Regions from separate parts of the Homo sapiens genome. Here region 1 is linked to region 2. Evidence: fine-mapped QTL for protein levels in blood plasma. A gene starts in region 2. The other region holds a variant in brackets. All regions are shown on one strand. Distances are between the middles of the regions.

Region 1 (2,998 bases), 40 kb before region 2:
GGGAAAATGGAGGATGTTTGGGTTGCCCCATAGGCATTAGGACAGGGCCCCACTGCCTTCTGTAGCCCTTCAGTCTCAACAGCAATGTGTTCTGCAGAGGAAAACTCAGGAAAGCAATTCTATCTGTCAAGCGGGACCACAACCTAAGGTTAAAAAAATGAGGCCAGATTATGATTTCCAGGTAAAATAAGATTGCTTTTAAAGGATTAATTCACTGGACTGTGGAATTATTAACAAAAGTGTTTCAGAAGCCCTTGGCAATTTAGGAAGCATTTATTTCCATTCAACTTTCACTGCAGTCCATGAGATAAACAGGAAAGGTTTTCTCCCTGTGCCCAGAGGGGTTGAGAACTTGCCCCAGGTCACAGTGGGACTAGAACCAGGTGTTCAGGTATGTCTGTGCAGTAGGCTGCTCCTTCCAGGAATCATCCTGGTTAATACAGATTGGACAGCATTCCTTTAAATCTTGGCATGGTTCCAGGCAACGATGAGTAGAACAGAGGAGAGGATTTAAAAAAAAAATAATTGAATGCTTAAATAAGATTTTATTAGAAACTAGACCTCAAAGCAGGTGACCTGCTTAGAGGGCCCATCTGATGTCCAAATCAGACTTGGCAAATACTGCTTATTGCCAGGGCTTTGGGGCTTTGGGGCTTTGACCCCAACCTAATCTTAGTGGCTCTGAGAGTCCACAGCCATTAAAGGGTAAGGTATTGGTGTTGGGTCGGGAAAAATCCAAACCAGTTTGACCACAGGAATTTTGGTGAAGGGGAAGCTGAGCCAACCAGCAGGAAATGCCATGTCACTTTGGATGGGCCAGCCCTACAGGATGGGTGACTTACCGCCCACCTGCAGGAACTCTCCAGTGGACTGGCCGTAGCGGTGCACGCTATGCTCAAAGGCCTTCTTCAGGGTGGAACCTTTTAACTGGACTAGGTCAAATGTGCCTCCAAAGGGCAATACAGCAGCCAGGTTCTCCCAGGTAATTGTGCCTGAGGGTAGTCACAGATGAGGCAAGAAGGAAAATAGCTTGAGAAAATGCTTACACCATGACCAGTTTCCCTCAGCGCTGGGGGAAGAAATGAGGGGGACATGGGAAGCTTATAGAGCATCATTAGCTATGTCTAAGTGGTTCCTGACACTGAGGAAGGGAATGAGTTTAGGAGGCCTCTGGCCCTGCACTCCACCACTGGGCAAGATGGCGGGAGCTCACAAATGGCTGTGCCTCAGAAGTTCACCATGCTCAGTCTTAGATCTGCTAGCTTGGGGCTGGATCTCCAGTAGTTTGTTTTGCATTGTTCCGTTCCTCCAGACAAACAATGTGCCCCTGCAACCTGTCCCTGTTGTCTGACAATGGGATGCGTTTGGGGCCTTATACTGATACTGATTGGTTTTCACAGTAAATCAGGGAGGGCTACAAGAGTGTCTTGAGTATTTGTGTAGTTGATTTGTTTTGCCATATGATATAATCTTGGATATCTGTAAATATACTAAGGTAACATTTTAATCCAGTGGTATGTCTTTTTCAGGACAGAAGATTGGTGATTTTGTCTCTTTTCAGATGCCAAGGTGGTGACTGTTGTTATTTTGCATAAATCAGAAACAACTAGTATAGCTTTGTAAGTCAGAAATTCAGACCAAGTTTGAGTTCCACTAACCTTACCTGCAGCTTCTGTGTGTGAATACATATAAGAACACACAAGCTTGTGTGTGTCCTTCAGGCTAGGTTTTAGACTTTAATAATGGCTAACCCTAATTTAAAGGACTGACATTCTGGTACATGGCTGGCAGCAGAGATGAACTGAGGCTGCACATGGGTGTGTTCAGGGCAAGAACCATAACAGAAAAGGAGATCAGAGAGAGAACATGACACACTGAGGAGCTGGGCCTGGGAGCATACCATTGTTGCGTTCATCAATGGGCGACCGGATACCACCTCCATTTAAAATGCACATGGATACGTGGTTCCAGAACATTTCATCCG[T/C]GTGTCTCAGGTTGTTGTTAATCTGCAACAGTAGCACAGATTTACACTAGTTACTCTGGCTCTTCTTCCTTAGGATCAGCTCCAGGAATCTGGTTAGCTCTAGTGAGGAAATAAAGCTGCTTTTCACCTGCTGCTGTGTTCCCAGGGATCTCTCAACTATAATTAGAACTAATTTTATGCTCCCAGAAGTAAAAATATACTGTTACCAGTCCATGTCAAACTCTTATTTCCCCCTCCTAAAACTCCCATACTGTCAGGCCAGGTGGCCTTAGCAAAATGGTCTCTCGGTTGTAGCCCTGGTGTCGGGACTGGGCCTCCCATGCAAGGTGGCCTGCAGAGTCACTCCTGCACAGGCTTCTCCAGGGCAGGCCATGCCCTCTGCCTGATTCTGAGGGCTTGGCCCTAGAGCCTGCTCAACACCAGACCTCATGCCAAAGAGAACCTGGCCTCCACGTCTATGTCTGCAGCTGATTCCCAAGTTGGCAATTTTGGAAAGACAGAGACAGCCTTTTGAAGCTGGGGAGAATCACATCCATTCTTACTTTTATTTTACAAAATATATGTTTAGTTATAAGAAATAAAATGAATATATTCTCATTTAGGAGACAAAAAGCCGAAAAAAAAAAAAAAAAAAGGCCAGGCATAGTGGCTCACACCTGTAAATCCCAGCACTTTGGGAGGCTGTGGCAGGTGGATCACCTAAGGTCAGGAGTTCGAGACCAGTCTAGCCAACATGGTGAAACCCCGTCTCTACTAAAGATACAAAAATTAGCTGGGTGTGGTAGTGGACACCTCTAATCCCAGCTACTTGGGAGGCTGAAGCAGGAGAATCGCTTGAACCCAAGGGACGGAGGTTGCAGTGAGCTGAGATCATGCCACTGCACTCCAGCCTGGGCGACAGAGCAAGACTCAGTCTCAATAAATAAATAAATTAATTAATTAAATAAATAAATAAATAAAAAGCAAAAGCTCTCCTTTGTCCTAGCCTCTTTAACAGAGTGGATAAGCACTGCC
Region 2 (8,528 bases):
TTAGAAAAGTACATGATAAAGCAGCAATGTGTATTTTACACCTACAATAAAGCTGGATACTGCCATGATATATAGGTAAAATATAGAAATTTACATGTCCTGTTTGGGGATGGGAGTAGGTGGAAGAGAATGGAGGATGTCAGTCATTGAGGAAACCAGTCTTGTAGTACTCAAAGTATGCCCTGTGGCCAGCAATTCTGCTCCTGGGTAGAAATCATCTGGTGAGACCATCCAGGAAGATATCTGGAGCAGCATTATTTGTGGAGGCAGGGTGTTAGACGCCATCTCCAAACCCATCAGCCAGGGAGCAGATGGGTAAAATACGTGGAGATGGGTAAAATACACAGAGCACAATTCACAGTGATGTATAGGTATAAGGGCATCTAGGGCAACATGGACAAATCATAAAAACAATAAGTTCAGGACAAAAGTAAGAAACAGAAAGGGCTAAATAACAGGACTGGGTATGCCATTATAAAATATAAGCACACAAAGGTTTTGAAAGTGCATGTAGAAACAAAACTATATGCAGTCCATCAAACACATTAGAATGTTGTCTATGTGGGAGGTGGAGGGTGGCGAACAAAGGACCATCTATCTGACTAACCTGTCCCCTGGGTGAGTTAAAGGCGGGGGCCATGGTTCCCACCCTGGCTGCTGCCTCCCCCATTTAGGAGCAATTGGCTAGGGCTAAGGCTGCAGCCTTATGGGCAGGAAGTGGGCTCAGCAGCCAGGGCCTCAGAAGCAGCAGCCAAGCAGAGAAAAGGCACCTTTCTAGGGGACCCTAGAGACCTGCTCAAAGCTACCTTCCCCACAGCCTGTCTTGGTGAGAATCTCACCTCTGGAGGTGGATACCTTCAGTTTTGTGCTGTGGGGAGATTTCATAAGTCTGCTCAATGAGTAACTATAGCAAAAATAGTTTAGGCAATGGTACTTAGGTAAGATGGTAGAGGGCAGGCAGGTGGTAGACTGTGCCAGGCTGTGAGAATCAGATAATCTGATGCACAACCCAAACCTTCCCTTCCTCACAATTCCCCTCCTCCCCACCCAGGGCACATGAAACTCACTTTCAGTGAGCACCAGCAGGGATTATCTCATGTATTCCTCACAAAACCTCTGCAAGATGGGGGTTATCACTCCTGTTTTACAGCTAAGGAACATGAAGCTCAGAGAAAGTAACCAGGCCAAGCGCATACTGTCAGTGCTTCCATGCTGTCTTCCTCGTGCCTCAGGGGACAACAGTCCTTCCACTGAGACAGCTACACTAACTGGAGAGTTTTGCCATCCTCTTCCCAGTTTTCTGCCTAGTAGTGGTTCCAGGGGGTCTCCAGGATTGCCCTGGGTCCTCTACAGCAATCAGGATTACTCCAGTAGGTCTAGAAAGTGTACACCTCCTTGGAAGTTCCTGCTCGAGGGGACTCCTGTGTTTTAGCTGGATTCTAGGAAATTCCTCTTTGTCCTCCATATGCTTCAGTCCTTTTATGTGGCTCCTTTGAACTAGGTCCAGTCTCCAGGAAACTGGAGATGCCCCTCCACAACTGTTTTCCACCCTGATTTGAATCCCCAGTGTCCTAGGAATCAATATGCGGTGAGTGGTTACAGTGGAGGAACGTTTATACCACAACAGCAATAAATTCTCTGAGGGTTAGTATAATATAAACAATTGACAGTGAAACATCTGTGCAATACTGGAGTACAGCAGAGCTTTAGCACATGCTTTAGCACTACAGAACTGGGATTTTATGCACGTCAAATCATGTTTGACACACCCCCAAACTGCACAGAGTAAGTCCTGAGGACACAGCCATCTAACCTTGCCATGTGATCCGCTCCCAATCTTTACCCCCTGCCAACATTACGTAAGTAGCCTATTTTTCCTCAGAACCCAATTCAATTTTCTTGAGCAAAATTTGAAAGAAAGTAATTTCATCCAACAAAAAGGATTCTGAACAAACACAGAAGAGATAGGCTGTAACTTACAGCAGTTTACTCAGGCCTCACCTAGATGTCCTGTCATAAACATTTGATACCATGATTAACACCAGGAGCTCAACTAGACTTACAAGAGGGAAATATTATTAGGGAAAACTAGGAATTCTTCATTCTTATTTTTCCACTAAAAAGGGTTCACACAATTGTGGAGAAAAGAGTGTCACAAAAAGTAAAGTTTACAAAGTCGTGGTTTATATGCAAAATAAAACAAACACATGTAAGTTTATTCTACCCTTCTGGGAGGAAGTGGAGACACAGGGTAGCAACAACTCAATTCTACAAATATTTATTTTGTCATTACTGAGTGCAAAGTATCAGGGAAGTGTAGCTGTGGAATACCAATGCTTAAGAGACCACAGAGTTCTTGAAACCCACGATTCTTCTTCAAATCCAGATGTGTGTGAGCCCCACCTCATCAACTCTGAAGGCTGAAGGATCAGCTGGAATTTCTGCTGCAGGGTGTCCCTGATAAGCTCAAAAGCATCAGAACGGAGGGAGCTTTCTCCCCTTCTCTCATCTCATTAAAATGAGCTTTCTTGTTGTGGGGGGTTGGGGAGGGACCTTTAAAACCAAACAATGGTGCCCTCTTATCATCTTTTCCTGTCCTCCTTTCTCCAAGTTTCCAGAGGGGAAAATAAAACCAAACAAACCCCTCAGCATTGTGCTCTCCTGACCTCTAAGCTCTTCTCATATAAAGTGTACTGTTAGCCTTCTGTATCCCAGCCTAATCACACTTCCCTTTCCCTTCCACACTTGTGGACTTCACAGATTTCTCTGGACGTTTCTCTGGAGATTTCTCAGTTCTTCCTCTTCCAAAGCTCTTTTTTCTTCTCCCAAGTTTCTCCACAGTCTTGCTGAATCCCTTTACTCAAGGCTTTTACACAGGGTTAAATTTGGGTGGTGGTTTTATTTTTTTTTTAACCACCATATATACATCTTGGTTGTACTTATTTATTACTGTGCAACCACCTCTGCTCCCTTTCTAGAATTTAGTGCAATAGAAAAGGCATTACCTTTAACCTAACATTTGGGACTTTGAACTAAACTTTTGCACATGTTTTAAGAGCCCATTATCTCTTAAGTTGGACTCTTCCTAAATCTCTGCCGCCAAACCTACTTTATTGAAATCCTTTGAAACCCAAGTCTTTCCACATTTTGGCTCTCTCTGAAGTTTCTTTCTTTCTTTCTCTTTCTTTCTTTCTTTCCTTTTCTTAACCCTATATTATAGTGTCTGGTAATAACAACATATATAGACACCACACTATGTGTCTGGTAATAATATAGAGACCACACTATGTGCACTATGTACAATTATAATCCTTATTTTTATACAGGATAGAACTGAGGCAAGAAAGAGTAAATAACTTGCTCAAGGTCACATAGAAGGTAATTGAACAGAGAATCTACCCCAAAGCTGTGAGCTTAATTACTCTCAAGCTCCGGGGTCAAAGAGATCTGGTGTCCATTCTTATCACGTCTCCCTTTTTGCGGGGATGGTGCCTGTTAATTTATTCAGCTTCTTCGACGCGGTTTCCCTTTCAATAAGATTGAGATAAAGCATTTTTCGAAAGATCTAGATTGAGATAAAGCATTCTTTGAAAGATCTAGCAGTAAATGAGAGCTGCGTGAGGGATCCGATTCAGTCCCTAGCTCTGGATAACTGTCAGTGCTTCTACGCACCCCACCTTAAGCCCCTCGCAGGCAGGACTGGGTCCTGCTCCTCTAAATACTCCCATCTCATAGTGGGGGCGCAATAACGTCCGTTTAAGACGAATCGTCCAAGGGACTTCTATGCATCCAGCTGGCACACTGGCCGGAGTCTCACTTTATCCCCACATCTCTCCGCGCCCTGGACCTAGGCTTGCCACACTCTGCCATCCGCTGCTTTTCCAGCCCGGCTCCTCTCTCAGTCCGGGACTACTATCCCGGGCGCGGGCTCGGGTCTTACCATGGCATCGTAGCGCAGGGCGTTCATGAAGTGCGCCACCTCGGCGCCCTTGTACACGGTGAACCAGATAGTGCCCTGGTACTGGTCGCCGGCGTCCAGCAGCAGCACGTTGGGTTCGGCGCGGCGGATCTGCTGAACCTTGGTGAAGAGCCGAGCCACGCCACCCATGCAGCGGCTGGCGTTGACGCACTTGCTGGAGTCCTCGCTGGTCTGCTCCAGCCGGCTGTGCACGTCGTTGGTGTGCAAAATCGTAAGCTCCCAGGCGCCAGCCGCAGGCCACAGCACCGCGCCCAGGGCGAGGAGTAGCGTCGCGGGCGCCCGCGCGGCTCGGGGACACATAGCTGTGGCGCGTGAACTGGGTGCGAAAGCGGGCGAGCCGGGCGAGTGCCGGCGAGTAGGGGCGAGCAGCTAGGGCCGGGGCTCGGTGCCCCGGCTGGAGGGGCGGGGCCCGGGTCAAGGCCGGGGCGGGTCCTTCTTCAGCCTGGAGGCCGGCTTGGCGGCCAGGCGCAAGTTCGCGACGTCACCCGATCCGACCCTGGTACCCGGAGCGGCCCTGGCGCGGCTGTCGGCTGGCACCAGCTCCCTGCAGGAAGAGTGGAGAGGTTGTTCCCGGCGGGGAGCGGGTACCGGCCGCATCCCGGCCGGACCAGGGAGCCTGGGCGCCGGCAGTTCGGCTGCTGGTGCGCCGCTCTTTCGGGGGCGCGAGGAAGGAATTGGAGGGGTCCGCCCCGCGCCTGGGTCCTCTCTGAGTCTCGCCTCATTCGAGGCACGGGTTTTTCTACAAAAGGAATGTATGGTTTGTGGTTGCGCTAGCTCATCACTTCAAAGAACCAAAGAAGGAAAAGAGAGGGGGCGGGAAGAAAGATGAGCGAGCTGAGGGGCAGAGAGGAGGAGTAAAGAGAGGCCGGGCAGAGGAGCTCCTTGCAGTTTCGGGCTGTGAGAGCCGAAGCTCACTGAGATGTGACGCTTCCTGTTGGGTTGAGAACGCACGAAGTCTACGATGCTTAGACAAAAAAATCTCAGAAACTAAGAAATCATTCGAATCCAGTTCCTTGTTTATTCACAATTAAAACCTTAGTGATAAAACAGAGGCGACGCGCGGACAGCTCCTGGAAGCAGAAACACGATTGGGGTAAAATCCGGCAGCTATCAGGACGGGAAGGGATGCTGCCCTTCTTTGCTTTTCTGGTCTTATTTTATTTTATTTTATTTTTATTTTGTCGCGTGTGCTTTCGGTGTCGCAGTGAAGTCATAGCCAAATACAATGTTAGGAAGATTTTCCTCTATGTTTTCTCCTAAGAGTTTTATAATTTAAACTCTTAGACCTTTAATCCATTTTGAGTTAATTTTCATATGTGGTATGAGTCCACATTTACTCTTTTTCATGTGGATATCCAGTTTTCTTAGTACCATTTGTTGAAAAGACATTCTGTGCCCGTTTTTAAGACATTGACCTGAGGTTCGGAGATTGTAAATCATTTGCCAAGAAAGGCCATGCAGTTTGGGAGCAGCAGTGCCTGGGGCTACAGAAGACCCTTGCTTCTGGGACACCCTCTAATGTCATGCTTTGCAAGGTTTTGCTCTGTCCCTCTTTGAGCACCTGCTAGAAGCAGGTAAAAGAACTGGTAGTTTTGCTGTTTTAACTTAAAAAAAGAATGATTTTAGACTTACAGAAAAGTTGCAAAGGTAATAAAGGGAGTTCCCACATACCCATCACCCATATTGCCTTATGTTAACAGCTTATATAACCAATGAAACTAAAAACTTAACAGTGATACGAAACTATTAACTGTGTTACTGATTTTATTTTAATTTCACCAACTGTTCCACTAATGTCCGTTTTCTATTCCAGGACCCAATTCAGGATACCATATTGCAGTTAGTTTTCCTGTGTTCTTAGCCTCCTCTAATCTGTGACAGTTTCTCAGTCAGTTGTCTTCAAAAACCTTGACACTTTTGAACAGTACTGGTTTCTGTATACTATCCCTCAGTTTGGGTTTGTCTGATGTTTTCTCATGATTGGACTGAAGCTGTGGATGTTTAGGAAGAATGCTACAGAGATTATGTGCCTTTCTCATTGCCTGGTATCTGTGGGTACACGGTATCAACATGACCTATCACTGATCACTGGGGAACTGATCATTTGTTGTTTCTTGTCTTTTAAACCTAAGCCACTGCAATAGTTTCTGAAATTCCTGTTCTGGGGATGCTACCAGATTTCTGCTTCAATATCATTTCCATGCCATTTGTTTTCATATACATCTAAAATGGCCTTTGATTGTTTATTGCACCAAGTTCAAGCTTCGCAAACTGGCATTTTGAAGTCTCATTTTATCCAGCCAACTTTACCTTCCACTGTTCCTCACACATTCCCTTTGTCCTCATTTCTTCTCTCCAAACCACCATTTCCAGTCTGTCCTTAGGCCAAGGCCCGGGGTTCCTTTAATTTCTTGTTCAAGTCAACATGAAGTTCCTTTGACTTCTTCACACAGCAGTGAGTTTTTCTCTTTTCTAAATTTCTGGTCAGTTCCTACAATCTCACTTTAATGTGGTTTTACTTTTTTTCTCCAGGTGTTTAATGTGTGTTTTTGGTCTTCTCCCCAAGCAATGGAAACAGAGTTGCTGCTTCAGTGGTAGTAGTACTTGCAATTCAAGTAACACTAACTTAAAATCTACTTTAGACACAGTGGGCGATAGTATGAAAGAACCAAGAAGGATTTCGGCTGTCCTGGAGCTGATAATGCTGCAAACAAGGTGAGGGTGCATACAGTAAGTAGCTGCAAAGCCATGAGGATCATAGAAAATTTCCCAAGTCCATGAGGAAAGAAAAATATACAGGCAAAAATTTACATACAAATCAGGGCTTTATTTATTGTTTCATCAGTTGATTAGACTTAAGAAAGTAATGAAGAAAATGTCAAAATAATGCAGAATAAACTTAAAAGTGTGTGGTGCTAATATCCATTACATTGGGAATAGCCCCCCAAATTGAGAAAATATTATTTCAGTACATATTAGAAAACTATTTTCTGACTCAGGAAAAATCTCACTCACATCATTGATGAACAATATATCTAGTGCTAAAACTAGGTTTTAATTTAATGACTATAGCCTGTACTACACTCATTATATAATAGGGTGACAAATACTTTAATAATAGATTACATATTACATCCAATAACAATACGTTATTGATTTATTAGAAAATAAATGGGTATATAACTCCATTTGTCAAATCAGTTCAGCCGGAACCATAGGTTGGCTATGGATTGCAAAAGTTCTGCAAAAATCAATGAAAGCAGTCTGTAGGAACCAATAGTAAAATTTACAAATAGTAAATTGTGTGTAACAATCTTTTATATCAGAAAAATTTATAATAAATATGTATGTATATAAATGCATGCGTTTTTCTTTAAGAGTCAGTTGTTGAACATTTACCAGCACACCACTGGAGCTATCTAATGGATAATATATATTTAAGTTTCTTTTGTGATGAGAACCTATTTTATATCTTATCACAAAGTCTTTAATAAAATATCAATTTTTCTTTAAATTTGCTGAGATAGATTTATTTAGGTGGGCTGAATTAAAAATCTGAGACCTGCTTTTAGGTGAATGCGGGGTGAAAACAGGGACCGGCCAGGCGCGGTGGCTCACACCTGTAATCCCAGCACTTCGGGAGGCCGAGGCGGGTGGATGACCTGAAGTCAGGAGTTTGAAACCAGCCTGGCCAATATGGTGAAACCCCATGTCTACTAAAAATACACAAAATTAGCCAGGTGTGGTGGCGGGCGCCTGGAGTCCTAGCTACTTGGGAGGCTGAGGCAGGAGAATCTCTTGAACCCTTGGAGGCAGAGGTTGCAGTGAGCTGAGATCACGCCGTTGCACTCCAGCCTGGGCAACAAGAGCAAAACTCTGTCTCAAAAAAGAAAAAAAAGAAAGAAAACAGAGGGACCTTGTCATAGGCATCCTGGCACATTTGGATTATGCTGTTAAATGACTATTAATATTTCATCTTATTGGTAAGAAAACTTAATGTGATATTTAACCTGGCTGAATAATTTGCTTAAGATCATTCATGTCCAAGTAAGTGGCAGTCAGGTTTTGAGCACAATTGAATTCCAATACTCAGGTTACATTGTTAAGTCTTCACAAAAGCATGAAGGGTAAATATTATTATCTGCTCCCCACCCCCACTTTTTCTGTGGTGAGAACGCTTAAAATCTACTCACATAGTGATTTTCAAGTATGCAATACATTGTTATTAACTATAGTCACCAAATTATACAGTAGATCTCTTGAATCTATTCTTCCTATCTAGCTGAAATTTTATATTCTTTGATCAGCCTCTCCAGTAACCCTTCAGGCAGCCCCTGGTAACCACCATTCTACTCTCCACATTTTTGCTTTATCCATTCATCCATTGATGGACAGTTAGGTGGATTCCAAAGCTTGACTATTGTGATAATGCTGCAATATCATTCTCCTTTTATGGGTAATAAAATGGAGCTTCAACATGTTAAATTAATTGCTCAAAGTTCCACAAGTGGGCAGGATTTTTTTTTGTCTTTTTATATTTGTAACTCTA

Which allele goes with the higher level. Positions count from the first base shown, and alleles are read on the strand shown. Strength reflects both the effect of a copy and how common the allele is.
With allele C in place of T in region 1, the plasma level of the protein whose gene starts at base 4,336 in region 2 is lower (strong association).

What was found. PIP is the posterior inclusion probability: the model's chance that the variant is causal. The UK Biobank Pharma Proteomics Project read protein levels with antibody pairs (Olink). The fine-mapping took linkage between variants from a reference panel, not from the people measured, so its PIPs are less certain.
Region 1: its variant is fine-mapped to the plasma level of the NT5E protein (UK Biobank, PIP above 0.99). The variant lies in the coding sequence of NT5E. If it changes the protein, the assay may bind it differently, which can mimic a change of level.

The regions. Positions count from the first base shown.
Region 1 is chr6:85,488,502-85,491,499 of GRCh38, reverse strand. It overlaps NT5E (5'-nucleotidase ecto), which reads right to left. Exons shown (of 9, transcript NM_002526.4): 6 at 1,901-2,006; 7 at 843-992. Among named protein-coding and RNA genes, the nearest start is that of NT5E, 40 kb to the right of the region's middle. The variant T/C (reference allele first, on the strand shown) is at 1,985.
Region 2 is chr6:85,445,891-85,454,418 of GRCh38, reverse strand. NT5E (5'-nucleotidase ecto) reads right to left here and starts at 4,336. Exons shown (of 9, transcript NM_002526.4): 1 at 3,941-4,336. The coding sequence starts at 4,279. RefSeq lists a silencer at 4,274-4,543.